Linked DNA regions of Homo sapiens. The protein of the gene in region 2 purifies or fractionates together with the protein of the main gene of each other region. This does not show direct contact. Each region holds a gene or a part of one and is shown on either strand. Other genes may lie near its edges.

The links.
Region 1: the proteins of PIP5KL1 (region 2) and PIP5K1A purify together in Homo sapiens (affinity purification with western blotting, with the first as the bait; one study listed by BioGRID). This does not show direct contact.
Region 3: the proteins of PIP5KL1 (region 2) and PIP5K1C purify together in Homo sapiens (affinity purification with western blotting, with the first as the bait; one study listed by BioGRID). This does not show direct contact.
Region 4: the proteins of PIP5KL1 (region 2) and PIP5K1B purify together in Homo sapiens (affinity purification with western blotting, with the first as the bait; one study listed by BioGRID). This does not show direct contact.

The regions. Positions count from the first base shown.
Region 1 is NC_000001.11:151,246,591-151,250,609, reverse strand, and holds the end of PIP5K1A (phosphatidylinositol 4-phosphate 5-kinase type-1 alpha), read right to left. Parts: intron 3,691-4,019; coding exon 3,645-3,690; intron 2,748-3,644; coding exon 2,745-2,747; coding exon of another isoform or gene 2,663-2,744; 3' UTR 1,079-2,662; downstream 1-1,078. UniProt on the Homo sapiens protein: Catalyzes the phosphorylation of phosphatidylinositol 4-phosphate (PtdIns(4)P/PI4P) to form phosphatidylinositol 4,5-bisphosphate (PtdIns(4,5)P2/PIP2), a lipid second messenger that regulates several cellular processes such as signal transduction, vesicle trafficking, actin cytoskeleton dynamics, cell adhesion, and cell motility.
Region 2 is NC_000009.12:127,927,978-127,932,229, forward strand, and holds the start of PIP5KL1 (phosphatidylinositol 4-phosphate 5-kinase-like protein 1), read right to left. Parts: upstream 2,801-4,252; 5' UTR 2,776-2,800; coding exon 2,746-2,775; intron 1,909-2,745; coding exon 1,711-1,908; intron 507-1,710; coding exon 456-506; intron 243-455; coding exon 88-242; intron 1-87. UniProt on the Homo sapiens protein: May act as a scaffold to localize and regulate type I PI(4)P 5-kinases to specific compartments within the cell, where they generate PI(4,5)P2 for actin nucleation, signaling and scaffold protein recruitment and conversion to PI(3,4,5)P3.
Region 3 is NC_000019.10:3,630,663-3,635,603, forward strand, and holds part of PIP5K1C (phosphatidylinositol 4-phosphate 5-kinase type-1 gamma), read right to left. Parts: intron 3,119-4,941; coding exon of another isoform or gene 3,098-3,118; exon of another isoform or gene 3,034-3,097; intron 2,859-3,033; coding exon 2,775-2,858; intron 2,508-2,774; coding exon 2,505-2,507; 3' UTR 1-2,504. UniProt on the Homo sapiens protein: Catalyzes the phosphorylation of phosphatidylinositol 4-phosphate (PtdIns(4)P/PI4P) to form phosphatidylinositol 4,5-bisphosphate (PtdIns(4,5)P2/PIP2), a lipid second messenger that regulates several cellular processes such as signal transduction, vesicle trafficking, actin cytoskeleton dynamics, cell adhesion, and cell motility.
Region 4 is NC_000009.12:68,707,035-68,713,082, reverse strand, and holds part of PIP5K1B (phosphatidylinositol 4-phosphate 5-kinase type-1 beta), read right to left. Parts: intron 1-6,048. UniProt on the Homo sapiens protein: Catalyzes the phosphorylation of phosphatidylinositol 4-phosphate (PtdIns(4)P/PI4P) to form phosphatidylinositol 4,5-bisphosphate (PtdIns(4,5)P2/PIP2), a lipid second messenger that regulates several cellular processes such as signal transduction, vesicle trafficking, actin cytoskeleton dynamics, cell adhesion, and cell motility.

The DNA.
Region 1 (4,019 bases), on a different chromosome or scaffold from region 2:
ACGTAACTGCTAATTTTTCCCCCTTTTATGTTCTGTGCCACCTTCAGAGAGCTTAAGTAGCTGTCTCACATATAACATATTGTTTTTGTGATTTGTGTTCCTCCTGGAAACTAGAAACTTTTGAAGGACAATTATTTCTTTGATCTCCATCTACTCCATGCATTGCTCATTAGCTGCTATATAAATATTTGGAGTGCCCTTAACAAGATAGGGAATAGTGGTATGAAAAGCAGCTGTTTGCTTAACTGCTTCTCTCCAAAGGTTCCCTATCTTCATGCCTCAGAATGAACCTCACCGCTCCTTTTTTTTTTTTTTTTTTTTAGACAGTCTCAGTCGCCTAGGCTGGAGTGCACTGGCGCAATCTTCGCTCACTGCAACCTCTGCTTCCCAGGTTCAAGCAATTCTCCAGCCTTGACCTCCAAAGTAGCTGGGACTACAGGCGCATGCCACCATCCCCTGCTAATTTTCAATAAACGGGGTTTTGCCATGTTGGCTGGGCTGGTCTCGAACTCCTGACCTCAGGTGATCCACCTGCCTCCACCTCCCAAAGTGCTGGGATTACAGGTGTGAGCCACCGCGCCTGGCCCGCCCCTACTTTTTTGTCTAGTTTCCTATCAAAGGAGCCTTAGCTCAACCTCACAAAAGAAAACAGCTAAAGAAAGCAATCTCTATGATCTTCTAAGAGTGACGCCCTAGGGCCAGGTCAAGAGAACGAAAGGGAGGGAATCACTAGGGCCAGCTAACCTCAAACTTACTTTTCCCACTGTCCCTCTCCTTTCCTCACTTAACTGAGTAAAGTGAGTTTTGAACCTCAAATCCCTGTTAAATTGGGTTGCAACCTAGGCAAGAGACCTACAGTAACTCCCCTCATATTCATTCACTGCTTTTCCTCGTGAAGATAATGGGGTTGCTGAGGAAGAGGATATAAGGACATAAAGCCTTAAGAGTGAAGCTGGAGTGTTGCAAGCTGGAAAGTATGCAGCCTTTGTTTAGGGCAACATGAACAAAACTGAGCCTGGGTGGTGGAGTAGGAGGGTGAGCAGATGGTATATGAAAAAGAATCAGAAAAAATAAGAGGTCTAAATAACTCATTAAAGTTTATTACATTAAAACCATATATCACTTTTATATTGTATTTGCCATTTCTGAACAATACAAAGTAGAGGCAAATAGTAACACTTAATAAAAATGTTGCTTCCCCATTCCTTTCCCTAAGACCCAGCCCTCCCTCAAATATTCCCTCCCACCCCTAACAGAACTCTGTCCTTAATAAAACACTTAAATACATCATAAATAGTAAATTATGAAAAAAAAATAGCAAGAATTCTTTCCTTCTTGTAAAAAACATGGCAGCAAAGACAGGCAGCCAGAAACTGGCTGGGGGTGTCTAATATAGACAGTTATTTGGGGTATGGGCTAACATATTATCAAGGCAGGGTGGGATAGAGAAGGGATAGAACAGGAATTCAACAATCTGCCTGAGATACCAGGCCCCCTTCTTCCCCTGACAAGAGTGGAAGGATCAGATGGAAAACCACAACTCTTGTAGACGGGGAGGAGAGGGCATATGTAGCCCCCATTTCCAACTTCCCTGCATGAAGACAGGGGGGTAGGACATATGGCACAGCAATGACCTCACCAAGGCAAGAATCTGCTGTCTCCCCATGAGTTTAAGAAAATATTTGCTGGCCTCACAGATATGGACTGTCTGTTAAACAGACAGAAGTGTCCCCTCTTTACCTTAGCTCCACAAACAGGAGAACACTGTTGGAAAAGATGAGAAGAGCAAAAAAAATCTCCTCTGGAGAATGATCTAAAATTCATTTGGTAAGTCTTCACATTTAGAAAAACAACCAGAATATATTTCAAATTGCAAAATAGTAATAATTACTATAGCCTGGCAGTGAACAGGATTCTGCCTAGGAAGGGCTATGATCTCCCAGCCCATGGCTGCCTCCTGTTTTAACAAAAGGGATAAAGATTACCCCATGTCCCACTCTCTTCATTCCTTCAGCCTTAAGAAATTCATCAAGAGAGGAGGAGTTTAAAGAGGAGCTGCTTCTGGCAGAGCAATCACTACTCTTCTCTTCATAAACACCATGGCTCTTCTGAGGGAACTCTACGAATAGGCATCTTGTCAACACTTCTGGAGTTCTGATCTGAAAATGGCTTGAAATTGTGTGCTGTGTGCTTTTTCCTTTTTTCAGAAAAAAAAAAAGAAGAAGAAAGCTGGGAGGTGGTTAAACACCCTTATCCCCCAAAAACCTTTACAGAGATTACAGGAGTATTCTTCCAGGAGTCAGAGAGAAAGAACTAAGGTAGGGATAATGTGCCAGCTAGTCTGTCCTGAGGAAATTAAGAGTCCGGTTCCTAGTCAAAGACGAGGGGAAAGAAAGCTGCCAAGTCCAGCAATCCCATTTCCAGCATGAAGAATGGGGGTCTGAAAAAAATTCAATAGTGGAGGCAAAGGGTTGGCCAGTTGAAAATCCATACCACCCAACTCTGGAGTGGAGGGGATGCTGCGGTCCTCAACTCTCTGAGGCACTAAGGCCCATTCATGAGGAAGAGGAAGGAGAGAAGGTTCTTCTTCAGGAAGAAGATGGAGGAGCAGCTCCCCTCACTTCTATTACACTCCTTTTTTGATGACCAAGTAGAAGAAAATTCAGCATTGCTGGGGCAAGGGCTGACATCTTGGGATCACAGAGATGGCAGAATCTTGTTCCAGGTCTTCTGAGGCTTTGCGCTTACTGAAAAGGGAGAGTGTAAAGTTAAGGATGTGGAGTATGAGATTAAGCAGAAATGGAATTCAAGCGTTAAGAAATTTCTATTTCAGCCTCAGCCTCCAAGTATGAGGTACCAAAAATATTTTTTAAAAAACAAGATGGCGGCCGCGCATGGTGGCTCACACCTGTAATCCCAGCACTTTGGGAGGCCCAGGCAGGTGGATCACGAGGTCAGGAGATCGAGGCCATCCTGGCTAACACGGTGAAACCCTGCTCTACTAAAAATACAAAAAATTAGCCGGGCATGGTGGTGGGCGCCTGTAGTCCCAACTACTCAAGGGGCTGAGGCAGCAGAATGGCGTGAACCTGGGAGGCGTAGCTTGCAGTGAGCCGAGATCGCGCCACTGCACTCCAGCCTGGGTGACAGAGCAAGACTCCGTCTCAAAAACACAAACACGATGGCTGGGTGCAATGGCTCACGGCTGTAATCCCAGCACTTTGAGAGGCCAAGGTGGGCAGATCACGACGTCAGGAGTTCAAGACCAGCCTGTCCAATATGATGAAACCCTGCGCCTACTAAAAAATAAAAAATTAGCCGGGCGTGGTGGCACGCACCTGTAGTCCCAGCTACTCCAGAGGCTGAGACAGGAGAACTGCTTGAACCCAGGAGGCAGAGGTTGCAGGTGAGCTGAGATTGCACCACTGCACTCCAGCCTGGGCAACAGAGTGAGACGCCATCTCAAAAATAAATAAATAAATAAATAAATAAGTACAAAATAAAAAAATAATAAAAAATAAAAAACAAGATTTAGGAGGTACCCAGATCCTCTAATCTTGACAATTAACTTCCTGCTCCAGGCCATCAGTGATCCTCTTTATACCTTGCAAAACGTTCACCTCCCACACATCCCAGATACTCACATGGGTGAACTCTGACTCTGCAACTTCAAGCTTTTCCAAGGTTGTACTAACAGGAGAAAAAAAATGGAAGCAGAGAGAAAAAGAATTAGAAGACAACAACAAAGGACTCTCCTTTTAAATCTCATACTGCTTCTCTAATTTTCACTTTGGAATCAATTTAGAATTTGGAAAGAAGAGGCTGAGAAGCTACTAGATTTAGAAGCACACTGTTTTAATTAACCATATTTAGCTTCTTGAATACTATAAAATATTTCCCAGTACCCTGCCCTCTTCTGTTTCAATCTCCAGGTGTCGTAGGTACCCTCTAAGATTGCCCCCAATAATCCCTGCCTCCTGAGATCCATGCCATTGTGTAATTCTCTCTCAAGTGTGGGC
Region 2 (4,252 bases):
CAGGGGGCCTTCCCCGCCACTGGGAATTCTGCCCTCCCAGCCAGGGGTACCACTCCCACCCCTGCCCCACCCCTGCCGCAAGCTCACGACAGGAAGAAGCTGGCCTTGCTCTTGGAGGTGCTGAGGAACTGCAGGTAGGGGCCGCCGGGGCCCAGGGCAGCCTGATAGTCCTCCTCCGCCAGGCCCAGGGAGCGGCGCAGCCAGGCAAAGGCGGGGCCGGCCAGCGTGCCCAGCTCGAAGCCCTGCAGGGGAGGAAGAGCCTCCTCTGGAGTGTCTGCGTGGGCCCGGGTGTGTGCAGTTGGTCCTGGGACAGGAGGGTCAGGGTGACCACACCCTTCCTGCAAGGCTCAAGTCTCAGGGACAAGCCTTCACTCCCACTGCACAGATGGGAAAACTGCAGAGGAGAGAGCAAGACCAGCACACGTCCCTCCCACACGGGAGTCTGGGCCTCCTACCTCGTGAACCTGGGTTAGGACCTCCGAGAAATCGTCCCGGGAGGGCGGCCCCTGCAGGGAGAGGTAGAGGAGCTCAGGGCAACCCTCAGTCCCCTGCTGCCTGCCCCAGGATCTCCAGATGTCCTGCACCTGGCCCGTCCCCCACCTCCTCCAATTGGATTCCTTCAGCAAACCGGGACCGGAGTTTCTGAGAGTGCCTGAGTTGGGCAGATGCATTGCTCACCTCCCAGGGATGCCAGGGGGACAAGAGTGACCCACGGCAAGGCCTGAGTGTATCTCATCCACTCTGGATCACCAGCACCAGGCCATGAGTTCAAGCCAGGCACGTTCCCAGACTCACAGGCTGGCCAAGTGAAGCCAGATTCTGTCCAGTACAAGGGGGTGGCCCTGAAGCCAAGGGACCTGCCTGATGCAACCTGGGAGGGGCAAAATCAGAGAAGCCTTCCTGGGGGTGGAGACCTCTAAGCTGAAATCTAAAGGGTAGTGGAGAGGAGGAGCAGGGTGCTCGCACCAGTAGAAACAGCACTGGTGGCTGCCGGCAAGGGAAGGAGGGCCCAAGTGGCTGAAGCCAGTGAGGGAGGGATGGAGTGTGAACAAGGCTGGATGCAGCTGGATCTGGAGGTCATGCTGAGTATTGGGGAGCCATGGAAGCTTTTCAGCAGGTGATGAGGTCAGTTTGTGATTTAGAGAACTCCCTCGAGTCTCTACACTTTCCCTGGATCTCCAGGTCCCTGTGCCCGGATGTGGTCTGTGGAATGTGGTCCCACTGCGCACACATGCACACACACGAACACCACACACATGCTCACCCAGGCCCGCCCAGCTGCTGAGCTTGCAGTTGGGCCACCTTTCTGCTGAGCCAGCCCTGCCTCAGCCTGAGCTCCAGAGAGGATGGGCTAGGCCAGCAGGGTGGGGGTGGGGGTCCCTTTTCAACCATATACCCTGGCAGGGCTGGGAGGGCCTCAGAAACCAAGGAGTATAATCTCCCCCCATTATACAGATGGGGACACTGAGGCCCAGAGAGAGGCAGAGACCCACCTAGAGTCACACAGCAACCACCTGAGTCAGGGGGTTCCTCACACCCCCAACGCACCCCAGACGTTCCAGCTCCCACACCACAATGTTCCTCCCTCTCTGCCTTCCTCCCCTTGATATCCCTCTCTGATCCCCACACCTGCAGTTTCAGCCAGACAGGGCATCAGCCAAGTCTTGCCATTGCTGGTGTGGAGATTCGTGGGACAGATGGGCCACTCACCGTGGGTGGGTGGTCCATGGAGACCTGGGTGGCAGCCCACAGCCCTGCCTGCATCATGCACGTCATCCCATGCAGTTCATGCCCCGGGCTGATCTCAAACAGGCCCAGGCGAGACTGCTTGTCTCGGAGGCGCCAGAGAAGCCCCCGCCGGCTGGAGGTGACTGCTCTGCATCCAGCCTCAGGGGAGGGGGCCAGGACCTGGTGGGAGGAGGCACAGGACACAGCCTGTGGCAGCGTCACAGAGGAAAAAGATCAGGGTTCAAGTCCCACTTCCACTACTTGTGAGACTTCCCCTCATCTCTCTCTGCCTCAATTTCTTCAGCTGTAAAATAGAGATGATGCTGGTACCCAGAGGGGCCACACAGTGCCTGGCACGCAGTCAGCACCCGAATAGAGCAATGGTTATGATTATCAGTAGATAGGGCGTGCACTCTGCAGTCAAACCTGGCCTTAGATGGACCGTCTCTCACCAACCTTGTGACCTTAGGTAAGTCACCTAACCTTTCTGTGCCTCATTTTTTCATCTGCAACGTGAAAACTAGAACAGCTTCTTCGTGGTAGGTATGAACTCTTGTTACTTTTGAGTTTGAGCTCCTTGCACGGGAGCCCTTGATAGTAGGAGCTGTGATGCCGGTGATTCAGTCACATCTATTCCATTCGCCTATGCTGAGCGCCTCCAGGCCAGCACGGAGGGGCCAGCACGATGCTTTTCATAGCCGCTGACCCACCAGTAGTGGGCATCCACCGCGTGCCCCGCACTGGATGAGAGCTTGACCTCCTAACAGCTCCCTGAAGGAGGAGCTTTAGCATCCTCTCCATTTTCCCAATGAGAAAGCTGAGGAAGTGTTGAGGGATATCCGCCAGGCCGCCCCTCGGGATACCTGGCGCCCCGTGTGGGGCGTGTCCTGGTCTTCGCCGGCTGCAGGGCCCCTCCCAGGCTTGGATGGGGGCGTGTCCGCGCCGCTCGCCGAGGGGAGGCCCGGCCCCTGCCCACCAACCCTTCCCTCTCCTGTCCTCTCTCGGGTCCGCACCTACCTCGCGGGGCCCCGGGCTCGGCGCAGCCATCGCCCCCGCAGCAGCTTCCCGGGCTTTGGCCGCATTCCCCGCCGCCCCGCTGCAGGAATCAGGCCCCGCCCCTACCTCGCGGCCGACCAATAGCATGGCGCCGACTGCGGCTGCATCCAATCCACGCGGGAGGCGCTGGCGATCGCCTGCGGGTCCCGCCCCCACGGCTGCAGCATCCTTCAGACCTCGGTCCGGCTGGGGCGGGGCCGCCGGACATTGGCTGGGGTCCCTCGAAGGGAGCACCCCCATTTTCCGCCCTCGGCGTGGGGACTCGGGTCGCTAGGGCCGCCTGGGGAGGCGAGTAACCTAAATCCTGTGCCACCCACCCATTCCGGCGTGAAATCCCCATTGCCCGTCTTTTGGGTGAAAAAACTGAGAGATCTAGAGAAAGAAGTCACTACCTCTAGGTCACACAGCAAAGTCGGGGACATCCATTCATTGAACACATAGATATTGAACACCCACTGTGGGCCAGCAGTGCTAGGCCCTGGGGATTTAGTGGTGAGCGAGAGGGAGGGGCTCAGCTGCCCGCGTGATCTTTAAAAGCATAACTTGGATGATGTCACTCTCGTGCTTAAAGCCTCCAGTGGCTCCCATGGCAATGGAACAAAACCCAAACCCCTCACCCTGACCCCAGGCCCATCTCAAACCACTCACCCTACACTTAACCACTGAGCCGCCCGGCCCCTCCTGTTCCTTAGCCGCCAAACTCTCCCATTCAAGCCTCTGCATTTTGCTATTCCCTCTGCTTGAAACTCTTGACCCCAGACTGCTACTCGCCTCGTTCTTTCGTCACCTTGCCAGACTCCAACAGAGCGCTCCCCTCCCCCCACTCCTGATCACATCACCTTTATTTTCTTTACCACCCTAACACTGTCAGAGACTGTCTTGTTTATTGTTTATCACGTCTCCCCCTGGAGTGGGAATGCCATGAAAGCGGGGCCATGTCATTCCTGCCTCCTGGCTGAGTGCCTGGCACAAGCCTGTGCCGGATGAGTGTCTATGGGACCAAGCGAGTAGGACGTGCAAAGGGCCTTGGTGAGTCCAGGAAGTGAAAGGCCAGAGTGGCTGGAGTGAAGAGGGGAAAGCAGGCTGAGAGGCAGGGCCCTGTGGGGACCCAGAGAGGTACTGTGAGTATGGGTGTGTGTGTGAGGCACCAAGGTTCGAGGGTTTTGTTTGTTTGTTTTAAGACAGAATCTCCCTCTGTGGCCCACGCTGGAGTGCAATGGCGCAATCTCGGCTCACTGCAACCTCTGCCTCTGGGTTCAAGTGATTCTCATGCCTCAGCCTCCCAAGTAGCTGGGATTATAGGCAGGCGTCACCATGCCCAGCTAATTTTTTTTTTCTTTTTTTCTGAGACAGAGTCTTGCTCTGTCGCCCAGGCTGGAGTGCAGTAGCGCGGTCTTAGCTAACTGCAACCTCCGCCTCCTAGGTTCAAGAGATTCCTCTGCCTCAGCCTCCTGAGTAGCTGGGGCTA
Region 3 (4,941 bases), on a different chromosome or scaffold from region 2:
GAGCCTGGCAGGAGACACATGGAAGTTTCCGCCTTGTCAGTCTCAGAGCAAACGCCTTTTAGTCTTTACAGTACAGGAATTTGGACACTGCCCACGTTCTCAGTGGACAGCAGCCATCAGAGGTGACCCAGGAGGGGAAGTGGGCATTGGTCACCAAGGTATTTACAGACTTCTATCATGGGGGACAGCGGGGTGGGTCCAGCAGCCTCCCTCGCGGGGGATCTGAGGGAGACCGAGTTCGCTAAATATTATAAATAGGTCTTGCCGTCCTCCTGCCCCCGCCCCTCGGCACAGTCAGTGGAGCACGTCAGCCTCGGTTTACAGTTCTCTGAAAAGGAACCAAAAAACACAACCAACACCAAGTATATCTCCAAAAGGGCCTTGGAGACAACACAAGAATGGAAATGAAATGGTATCCACAGAGGTTTGCACATTTCTCCTGCAAAGGCGCGTCGGCCGGGCACTGGTGTCCCGTGTCACTCAGCGGAGGGAGGCTGCCCTGGACGCGGTGCCGCCCGCCCGGGGCCACACCTGCTGCTCCGAGTCACCCCACAGGCTCTTGGCGTCTCTGGTGCCAGGGCTCTGGGCAGGGCGACTCGAGGACTCCCTGGGAGGACTGGTGTGGCCTCTGGGGGTTGGGCCTTTGAGATGACAATGCCCCTGTCCCTGCTGGCCATCCAGGTCCCAGACACCCCTTCTGACCTCTGCCCCTGCCTCCCCGGGGGGTGCCTGCTGGGTGTCCTTCGGAGGGACAGGGCGGGGGCTGATGGGTGGATGCCCGGTGCCAGCAGATGAGCACCAGGCTGTGAACTGAGGCCAAGGTCGCTTCCCAGGGCTGGACAGACCCTCTGAGCACGCAGGGAGGACCCCACGTGGGCTTGTCCTGATGGATGCTGGGAGCCACGCGGCTGGCCGGTTCCCGAGGAGGGTCGGCCCCTCTCCTGGGCAGAGTGGAGGGGCTGCTCTCGTGGAGTGTGTGTCCTCGCTGGGGACCTCGGGGATGGGTCCGGCTTCTCCACAGCAGGGGCCTTCCGGGCGCAGCGTGTGGGCTGTGCAGGAGGCCGACGGGACGTGAACAGCGGGTGGCGTGGCGTCATACGGAGGTTGTAACAGACAAAACACAGAGCCCTGCCTGGGAGGTTCTCCGGCCGTCTCAGACCCCACACCAGGCTCTGCCAGGTCTGGAGAGGAATTCTTCCCAAAGGTGCAGCTTCCACTCCAGCTCCTCACATCCTGGGCACATCTTGGAAGTGGGGGATTCCCACAGCCATCACCAATAAGCCCCTCTCAGGGGTCCTGGGGAAGGGCAGGGTGGGTGACTCTGCCGAGCTCTGGCCTCCAACCAGCACCCTCTGAGCGCAGCGGGCCCAGGAAGCTGCCCCAGGGCAGTCTGGGCTGAGTCCCACCACTGGGAGCGCTGCCCTCTTGGAGGGTGATGAGTCGGAAACAAAGTCTTCTCTCCCCTCCTCGGAGACATCACATCACTTAAACAAGAAAGAGGCGGCGGACATCCACACCAGTCCTGAAGGAGACTCCTGTGGAGCCGGGCCTGGCCCCCTAGGCCATGTCTCCACGTGGAGGGGGCGGGGAGCCTGACCTTCCGCCCTGAGCTGGTCTCCTGTGGCCCAAGGCCCGGCCTCCCGCTCTGTCCTGCCATGGAGAAAACGTCTCCGTTGCCTGGGCCCTCCATGCCAGTTGCTGAGTGGCCTACGTTGGAAGAGAAGGACAAGTCCCCAGCCCTGAGCTCCGCCAGCGTGGGTGGCAGCCTGGGGAAGAGGAGGCCTGGCCCTCCAGCTGTGGTGGGTCTGGATTGGAGGCGCCAGAGGTTTTTGCTCGAGGGGCACCTGGGAGGTGGGCGTCAGGGCCCCACTGCGGCGGGAACATAGCTGCTGAGTGGCCGCAGTGCTTGGCAGGGCGAGGGCTGTCCCCACAGTCGATGTTCAGGCCAGATGTCCTGCACTGAGGCCCCCAAACCCAAGCTGAGGGCAGGAGGGTCCGCTTCCCACGTGGATGGAGGCAGAGTTGCTCGGGACCCCAGCCGTCCCCTCTGCAGGCCGATGGGGCCCCCGGGGCTCAGGTCCCCAGAGGCCACCGCGAACAGCCTGGCTTCTTCCTCAGGACACAGGCAGGCACAGCAGAGAACCAAAGAGTGCAGTGGGCAGGGGCTCTTCTCCCTCTGGTTGGTTTGTTTGTGTCTTTTTTGTTCTTTTCCTAAAACGGCACACACGTGCTTCCGTCTCTGTGCCAAATAAGGACTCAAATGCGATTGGCCGCTCGGGAGGGTGGGTCTCACAGGGGCAGGCTGCCGACCGGGGTGCCGGGGCCCTGGGAGGCTTGTCGGGGAGGGGCCCGGCCGTCGGCATCCGTGCAGGGGGAGGACGAGGTCCGGTGGGGCGGCGAGGCGGGCATCTCCCGAGCTCTGGGCCTCAGCGGGGTGGGCAGCGCCTTCGGGGGCAGCCGGAGCAGAAGTGGAGCTCGGCTCTGGGTCGGGGGCTGCATAGAAATTACTGCAAGAGCAAGAGGACAGGTGAAGGTGGGCGGGGCGAGGGCCCACCCCAGGCCCCCTGCCAGGGACTGGCTTCCTTGGGCCAACACAGGCCCTGAGACACTTAGCCCACGGCCACCTCAGAGCCAGAGAGCCCAGGGTGGAGCTCTGGGCCACCTGTGCCCTCCCGCCCCGGGCCTCAGTCCCTGCCTATCCCAGTAGCTGGGGACCACGCTCAGTAGAACCTTGGAGCCCACGGGACCGGCGGGTGCACCTGGGCTGCACTTACTGTGTCGCTCTCGCCGTCGGAGGCCGGGGGGGCCTGGGCGCTATAGTGGAGCGGGGAGTACACCCAGCTCCTCTCATCGGTGGGCTGGCAGGTGGGCGCGCGTGCAGGAGGGCGCGGAAGAGCAGGGTGCGAGGAGGTGCAAGAGAGGCAGAGGGAGGAAGGAAGAGACAGGAGAACATAAAAGAGGCGAATCCCCCATGGAAGACGAGGGGTGGCTCAGCCCAGCTGCCCTCTCTGACCCGGTGGACTTGCTCCCAACCTGGACGGGCCTGGGGCCTCAGCTCAGCTTGGCGGGGCGGGGCACGGCGGGCGGCAGAAAGCAGTTAGTTCAGTCGAGGCAGGGCCTGAGATAGCAGGTGACAGAGCCGGCGGAAGCGGGTGGGGGTCGCGACCTGGAGCACCGAGTGTTCCTCCTCCTCCTCCTCCTCCACAGCCCGGCCCCACCACAGCCCCCAATCCTGCCTGTGCCACGGGCACCAGCGCACAGGCTCCTGGAAGCTCTCTATGGGGGTCCTGGGAGGTCGGGGTGCCGGACCTACTTCCCAACCCAGAAGCCTTTTGGGACCTGAATATATGGCTGCCTGCGGGCAGGGCCAGTCCCCTCTGCCAGCACAGACGTGCTAGGAGAGACTGAGGCTCGGACCACCCACCCTGCAAGAGCCAGGAGACGCCTTCCTGAGCAGCAGGGCAGAGTGAGGGCCAAGTTCAGGGCTAGGCACAGGCAGGGCCGTGTGCAGGGACACGGACAGCTCTTCCCAGCTGTGCCTGCGTGAGGGGTCCCAGGTCTGGGTGGGATCTGGGGAGGGAGGGAGGGTGCGTTCCTCCAACACCTCCGTCCCGCCTCCTGAGGAGCCCCCACCCCCTCAAGCTCCCCCTGCTTCTCCTGCCCCTAGGCTGCTCTGCTTTCTCAGGGCTCCAGCCTGGCCGCCCTGTCTTCCTTGTTGTGTCCTCCTCTCTCTCGGGCCTCTGTCACCAACCCAGCCTTCAACGCCCCTCCCGGCACAGATGACCTGCGAATTTCCACCAGGCCTGGCCTCGGCCTGAAGTGCCAGGCCTGAATACACACCTGCCTGGCCACGTCCACCTGGCGGCCCTCGGCCCCTAAACTCGCCACAGTCACAACCCAGTCCATCACCCCAAGACCCACTGCTCGTCCTTCCAGTCAGGATGACGCTGCCCACCTGCTGCCCAGGCCAACCCATGCCTCTGCCAGCTCCCAGTTGCCCAGCCTGGGCCAGCAGGGGCCTCCCTTGTGCTCCAGGTGAGCCCAGACCTCACCTGCAGGAGCACTGCCTCTCCCTGCCTCGGGCTCTGCCTCCATGCTCCCTCTAAAGGGCCCACCTCTGTGCTCACTCCACCCTGCCCGATCCTACAGCTTCCACAAGACCCCTGTTCCCGGGCCCTGGGCACCGAGGGCAGCGCACTCCTGCCCTGCGAGGCCGCATCGCGGAGGACTGACTCCTGCACTGAGGGGCCAGGACCCCAGCGCAGGCCTTGCCTGTTCCTCCAGGGTAGCAAATGCAGCCTGGAATCCCTGACGTGGGAATGGCAGGTCAGGTCCACCCAACGTCCCTTGAGAGCCCGGCATGGGGAGCCTATGTGGGTGCTCAGTACTGATTTGGTGGCTGCACTGATGGATCCCATGGGGACTTGAAAATGTGGGGCCAAAACAGGGTCCCCACCTGAGCCCTGAAAGAACTGGCCCGCAGGGAGGAGGGTGGCAGCAGCCACCTCAGAGCCGCTCTCTGGGAGGGGCATCCCGGGCACACACAGCACGTGGGCAGGGATGACAGTATCCTTCTGCTACAGCATTAGAAACGGGGATACAGGCCAGGTGCAGGAGCTCACGCCTGTCATCCCAGCACTTTGGGAGGCCAAGGCAGGTGGATCACTTGAGGTCAGGAGTTCAAGACCAGCCTGGCCAATATGGCGAAACCCTATCTCTACTAAAAATACAAAGATTAAGGCCGGGCGTGGTGGCTCACGCCTGTAATCCCAGAACTTTGGGAGGCCGAGGTGGGCAGATACCTGAGGTCAGGAGTTCGAGACCAGCCTGGCCAACATGGTAAAACCCCATCTCTTACTAAAAATACAAAAAATTATTGGGGCATGGTGGCAGGAGCCTGTAATCCCAGCAACTCGGGAGGCTGAGGCAGAAGAATCGCTT
Region 4 (6,048 bases), about 59 Mb from region 2:
TGACTCTGTTGGTCTAAGGACTGCACTTTCAGAGTCACTGCCCTGGCTTCTTCCATGGTATTGGGACTGTTGATGTAGCTGATGTTCAAATAAATACCAGCTCAAATACCACCTTTATGTGAGGCATCATAGGAATTGCCTTGTATATGAACACCAAAGTGTCTTAATTAGGAATGAATATGTTTATGATTTAGGTACATTTAGAGCCCATTTTAACAGTGTAGCAACGTTTTGTTTTGTGCTTGATAATTTCCTCTTCTTTGTTCACTACTATTCATTTCTAAGTAAATGGAAGAAATCAGTCTTTAAATAGAGACAGTGTTTTCTTAATAATCATGCCAGAATTTATCATCTAAACAAGTGGTTTTCTCATCCTAAAGGGTTCGGTCATCATTGTAAAGGAGCTGCCATAGCTAACACGTAAGCACTGTCCTCTCAGTCTGATTCAGCTTGAGTAACCTAAATGATGGCCCACTTCATCTTGACAGGATGGATGGGGCTTATTCATGTATTCATTTAAATATTTACTGAGGACCTACCATGTGCCAAACACTAGAAAAACAGTGTTATGAACCATGGCCTCTGCCCTCAAAGAGTTTATAATCTTGGGTTGAATGTGAGTTTGGACACAGGGAAACAAGTGAAATACATAAATGAATAAGTATCCGTGTTAATCTGTTTTTGCATTGCCATAAAGGAATACCTAAGGCTGCATAATTCATAAAGAAAAGAGGTTTTATTTTGGCTCACAGTTCTGCAAGCCGTACATAAGGCACAGTGCCAGCATCTGCTTCTGGTGAGAGAGGGCCCCAGGAAGCTTACAGTCATGGCGGAAGGTGAAGGGGGAGTCCATGTAAAAGAGGGAGCAAGGGAGGGGTAGGAGATGCCACACGCTTTGAAACAACCAGATCTCATGTAAACTCATAGAGCAAGAGCTCACTCATTACCATGGGGAGTGTACTAAGCCATTCATGAGGGATCCATCCATATGACTCAAATTCTTCCCATCAGGCCCCACCTCTAGCATGGGGAATCACATTTCAACCTGAGATTTGGAAGGGACAAACGTCAAAACTGTATCAGTATCCCTGTGACAAGTGAACAAAACATATGGAGAAGGTCTCCTTTAGGTTGGAAGAACAGAAAAGTCGCCAGGAGGAGGTGATATTTAAGCTGATTAACTTAGAGAAGCTTAAAGTCCATTCTTGTCTCTGTACCCTGAACCAAACTCACTATTAAGCCACTCTGGGCATTTGAGAACTACGCTTACTGAATACTTTCAAATAAAAACAGAATATATTTAGTATTTATTTTTCTCCTAAAGAAGATAAATAATGCAAAATTATTCCTAGGCATTTTGGTTAAAAAAGTTGTAGTCTAGTGAATAAATATAATTTATGATTTAAAAAAAGGACTACTATAAACTATCAACATTAGCATCTATCAGACTGCCTAATATTTCTAAAATGGTTCGAAAAATAATAGAATCATTAGAATAATTATGGAACATCCCAAGATTTTGAAGAGTGATATTCATTTGGATATATAAATTGTTCAGTAAACACTCATTAAATCCTCACCACCTGCCAGACACAGTGCCAAGTTCCAAGAATACAAATATAAATAAAACATGATGCTTAACCTTTTCCATTGTCAAATATTTGCTGAACACCTATGATGTGCTTACTACTCCCTCAAGGAGGTCGTTGCATTGCTTTTTAATTGTTGTTGCTGTTTTGTTTCCTTACTTTATTACCAAACATATGATCAAGTGATCCAGAGAGCACAATGATGGGCATGGTTTAAAAAAGAAAGAAAAAAAGTGTATATTAAATTAAAAGCCCACTATGAAACATGTCGAATCCACTGCATGTCTTAAGTCTGTCTACGAAGCAAGGAAAGCACATTTTTATGGCTCGCTCTAATTTTATCCTCCCCCACAAACCCCTTGCTCAGCATGACTGAATGGTGAAGGCTTAAATATCACCTTTTCTCTTACAAACTGAATGAACTTTCTGCAGTCCTGTCTGAACTTTAGTTCCAATTCAAGATAATTATAATCTCTGGACCCCTAGTACTTACAATTCCAATCCTTGCCTGAACTTCCACTGAAAGACATACACACCCATTTTAAAACCAGGAGCAATACCAAACCCTCAATGCTTTATATTTCATTGCAATTTCACAATTGATTTTCTAAAAACATTAGAGAAAATGAGTCTCAAGAACTTACTGTGCATCCATCATGTAAATTACCCAAACATGTTACATATTCATTGTTTATTGAGTCCCATAAACAATACAGAAGACTTCCTACAAGAACACACACTTCATGTTGTTTATTCCAGTGCTAGTTTGTTTTAACTTAAAATGATAATACCAAGGCACTGTCAGCTTACTGAACATGCAACCTTGTCCCAATCACTCTGTTTCAAATCTTTCCAAGAGTAATCTAGTTTGGGCAGGATTCCTGTGTTTTCCTGTGTGATTATCTCCTTTATATACCTCTGATGAAGCGATACAGAAGTAAATACAATTGAGAATAGAATGTACAAAAGCAAGCCTGTTTTCCCTGACCTAATCTTATATATGAAAAGGAACCTGACTGAATACAATTCTCTGTCAATAGCAGCTGATTGTTTACGACACAGTACCCCAAAAATTTCATCATAAATTAAGTTTAAAGTTGATTTTTAAAAAGAAAAAAAATAAAACAGAAGCCTAGGTTTCCTCCCACCCCAGTTCTCTGGCACTCAGCAAAAAGTAACACATCCTGCTCTATTGATAAGACCACAAATGAACAGTAGAGCTACATAATGTACAGTTCTAACTGGCCAGCTTCTAAAAAAAAATGAAGGATTCCTTCCAACTCCCATTAATGCACTTGATACAAAGAGAACATGTTTCAGCAACAAATACATTTAGGACTTGATGTTTTACAGAATCTACTGAAGGCTCTGGCCATAGGGGGAAAAAAAAATTTCCAGGATATTAAATGTTCTGACTCACCATCTAACAGAAGTACAAGCAAAATGCAAATGCAAATTGAATGTATACATATTTATGACTTTACCAGCTGCATGACAAGGCTACCTTTGGCTTCTGGCTTTATATATCAGGAAGAGAAGTTGAGAATACCAGCATACATTTGTGTTTCTTTTCCTTTCTTTTCTGAGACAAGGCCTTGCTGTGTCACCCAGGCTAGAGTACAGTGGTGCGATCATAGCTCACTGCAACCTTGAACTCCTAGGCTCCAGTGATCCTCTCACTTCAGCCTCCCAAGTAGCTGGGACCACAGGCACGTGCCACCATACCCAGCTAATTTTTTATTTTTGCATAGATGGGGTCTTGCTATGTTGCCCAGGCTGGTCTCAAACTCCTGGGCTCAAGTGATTCGCCCACCTCGGCCTCCCATGGGATTACAGGTCTTTGGTTTCTATTTGAACAGTTTCCTCTCTCCCAGCACTGATTGGAGCAAAGTATTATTTCTGAGTCTGGTGATGCACATAAGCCAGAAGAATCATAGTGAATAGATAAAAACAAACATTTTGGCCGAGCACAGGGTCTCACACCTGTAATCCCAGCACTGTGGGAAGCCGATGCCTGTGGATTGCTTGAATCCACGAGTTACAGACCAGCCTAGGCAACATGGTGCAACCCTGTCTCTGCCAAAAATACAAAAATTAGCCAGGCATGGTAGTGCGTGCCTGTTGTTGCAGCTACTCAGGAAGTTGAGGTGGGAGGATTACCTGAGCCTGGGGAGGTTGAGGCTGGAGTTGGGCCACTGCACTCCAGCCTGGGAAACAGAATGAGACCTTGACTCAAAAAACAAAAAAAAAGTAAAGAGAAAAAAACATGTTATTTTTAATGGCATCTGCTTGGGCAAGAAAACTTAAACATATAAATGCTAAACCATTTTCAAATGTACTAACTCTCTAATAATGATAGTAAACAGAAGTTTTCTGTTAATCTCTATGATTTCTAAAAGTCAAAACTGTACCTTCACCATAGAACTCCTGGGACAAACTCAAATATGAACCTTCTTAAGAATTCCACATTGATCTTGGTCCTCCTGCTATCATCTTTGTGACCATAAGTAAGTCAATTCACCTAAGTTTTAGTTTTCTTACCCATAAACGGTACTTCTAAACTAATTAATATTTAAATTCTTTATCAGAAGGAAACATACATCAATCCCCAATGTAAATTGCAGATCCATTAATAATATTTAAGATCACTATATTCTTTCTTATCATTCTTCCAAACATAAAAACACTACTTGTCTGTATATAAAGAGGAGGAGTAGAAAGAGAAGATTGTTAAAAGGAACAGAAACTAGGTTGGTTTTGTTAACTAGGTTCCCCCTCTGAAACCACGAGACAGTATTAGCATCTCCTGAAATTTATTCAATACCCTGTTTTAAAAACAGAATGGTTGGTTTCCCCATGTCAAGACATACCCTTTCATAAAATGGGACAAGTCAATTTCTAGGAATGTATCTTTCAGCAGCTGTAATACTAACAACTAAAGGGGCGGGGGGGCGGCAAACAAAAGAGCATAACATAGATGACATGAGTCTACTGTCTAGGGAGAAAGAAAAGCTCTTCCCTATATGATGCCTTCAGAAAAGAGAGCAACAATGGGCTCTGTACCCGCCAGCTTCAGGAGGCACATGCCTGTAGGCAAATTATCTTATGTGTTGGGAATTTACATGGTAAGATGCTTTCTATGTTTTACAGCATATGTTTTCCTTATGAATGACTTCATTCACCCCCTTCATTAATTCAACAGCTATTTACTGAGCACTTACTTTATGCAAACCATAAAGCTAAAAAAAAAAAGTTATGAGCTTACAATTAGAATATTCAAGTAAGCCCTGACATGTACCTTACAGTACTTTAACCCCTCAGAATATTTTCAAGTCAAACAGTAAACTAAACAATATACTGTAGATGTTAAGCTAAAACGCACTTGTTAAGTTTCATTCCTTTGATGAAGTGGCATGTAGTAAAGGGGGGAAGGGATAAACTAAAGGTGAAAGAGTAATTAGCTAGGTCTCTTAGGTGATGTGGGGTACAAAGGTCTCCTTCCTCTAGAGAAAATGATAACATTGGATTACAAACACATTGGTAAACATCACAAAATGCTAAAGTTGGAAAGAAAAAACATAATTTCATACAAACGTTTTGTTTTATATGTGAGACACTTGAGACTTGGAAGTGATATGATGGCCCAGGTCATACGGCCAAATGTAGTCCCAGAACTAGAACCCAGGTCACTGGGGGCATGCTTAACAGTCCTTTGTGTATTGCAGTTTCCATGATGTGTCCTCATTGCTATCAGAACTGAAATGATGGCAGAATACACAAAGCAATGGACTGGACATCAGAAGATCCAAGTTCTAGTCTTGCAAATGCCACTAAATGAGATGTAAATCCATGGAAAACTCCCACTGCTTGTCTAAACCTCAGTTTCCTCATCTGTAAAATGTAAACAGTAATTTACAGTGAGACTATGCAGACCACAATAAATGCAGAAGAACTCTGCCATTTAAAAAACCACCTTATATAAGTACAGAGCAGGCACCTGGTTATGACAGAAAACCTAACTGTGATTCTAATACCAGCACTTGTTACCTTGATAAATCTCTGAATCTGTGAGCCTCATGTTCCTTCTGTGTTTACATGGTAAAAAGTCTTTGCCCTGCCTCCCTCAGAAATGTTTGGAATTAGGTGAGAACACTCAAAAGAATTTACAAATTGCAAGACACTGATGCAAATGTAAGGTGTTATTATTAAATCTCTCTAGTCTTAACGTGGACAAAAATGTAATGTGGTTCTATCATTTAGTGCTTCACAGTTTTCCTTCTCAGGTAAGATGTCATCATACATCAGTCTCAAACTCACCAGCTTTCTCATCAGTCCTCATAAGTCTCTGCCCACAGGACCATATCAGAACCACCGTTTCCCTCCGCTCAGAGATCACACATGAAACTCACTCAACCTCCCACTGGTTTACACTTGGCCGATTAAGGTTTTTTCCCAGCGT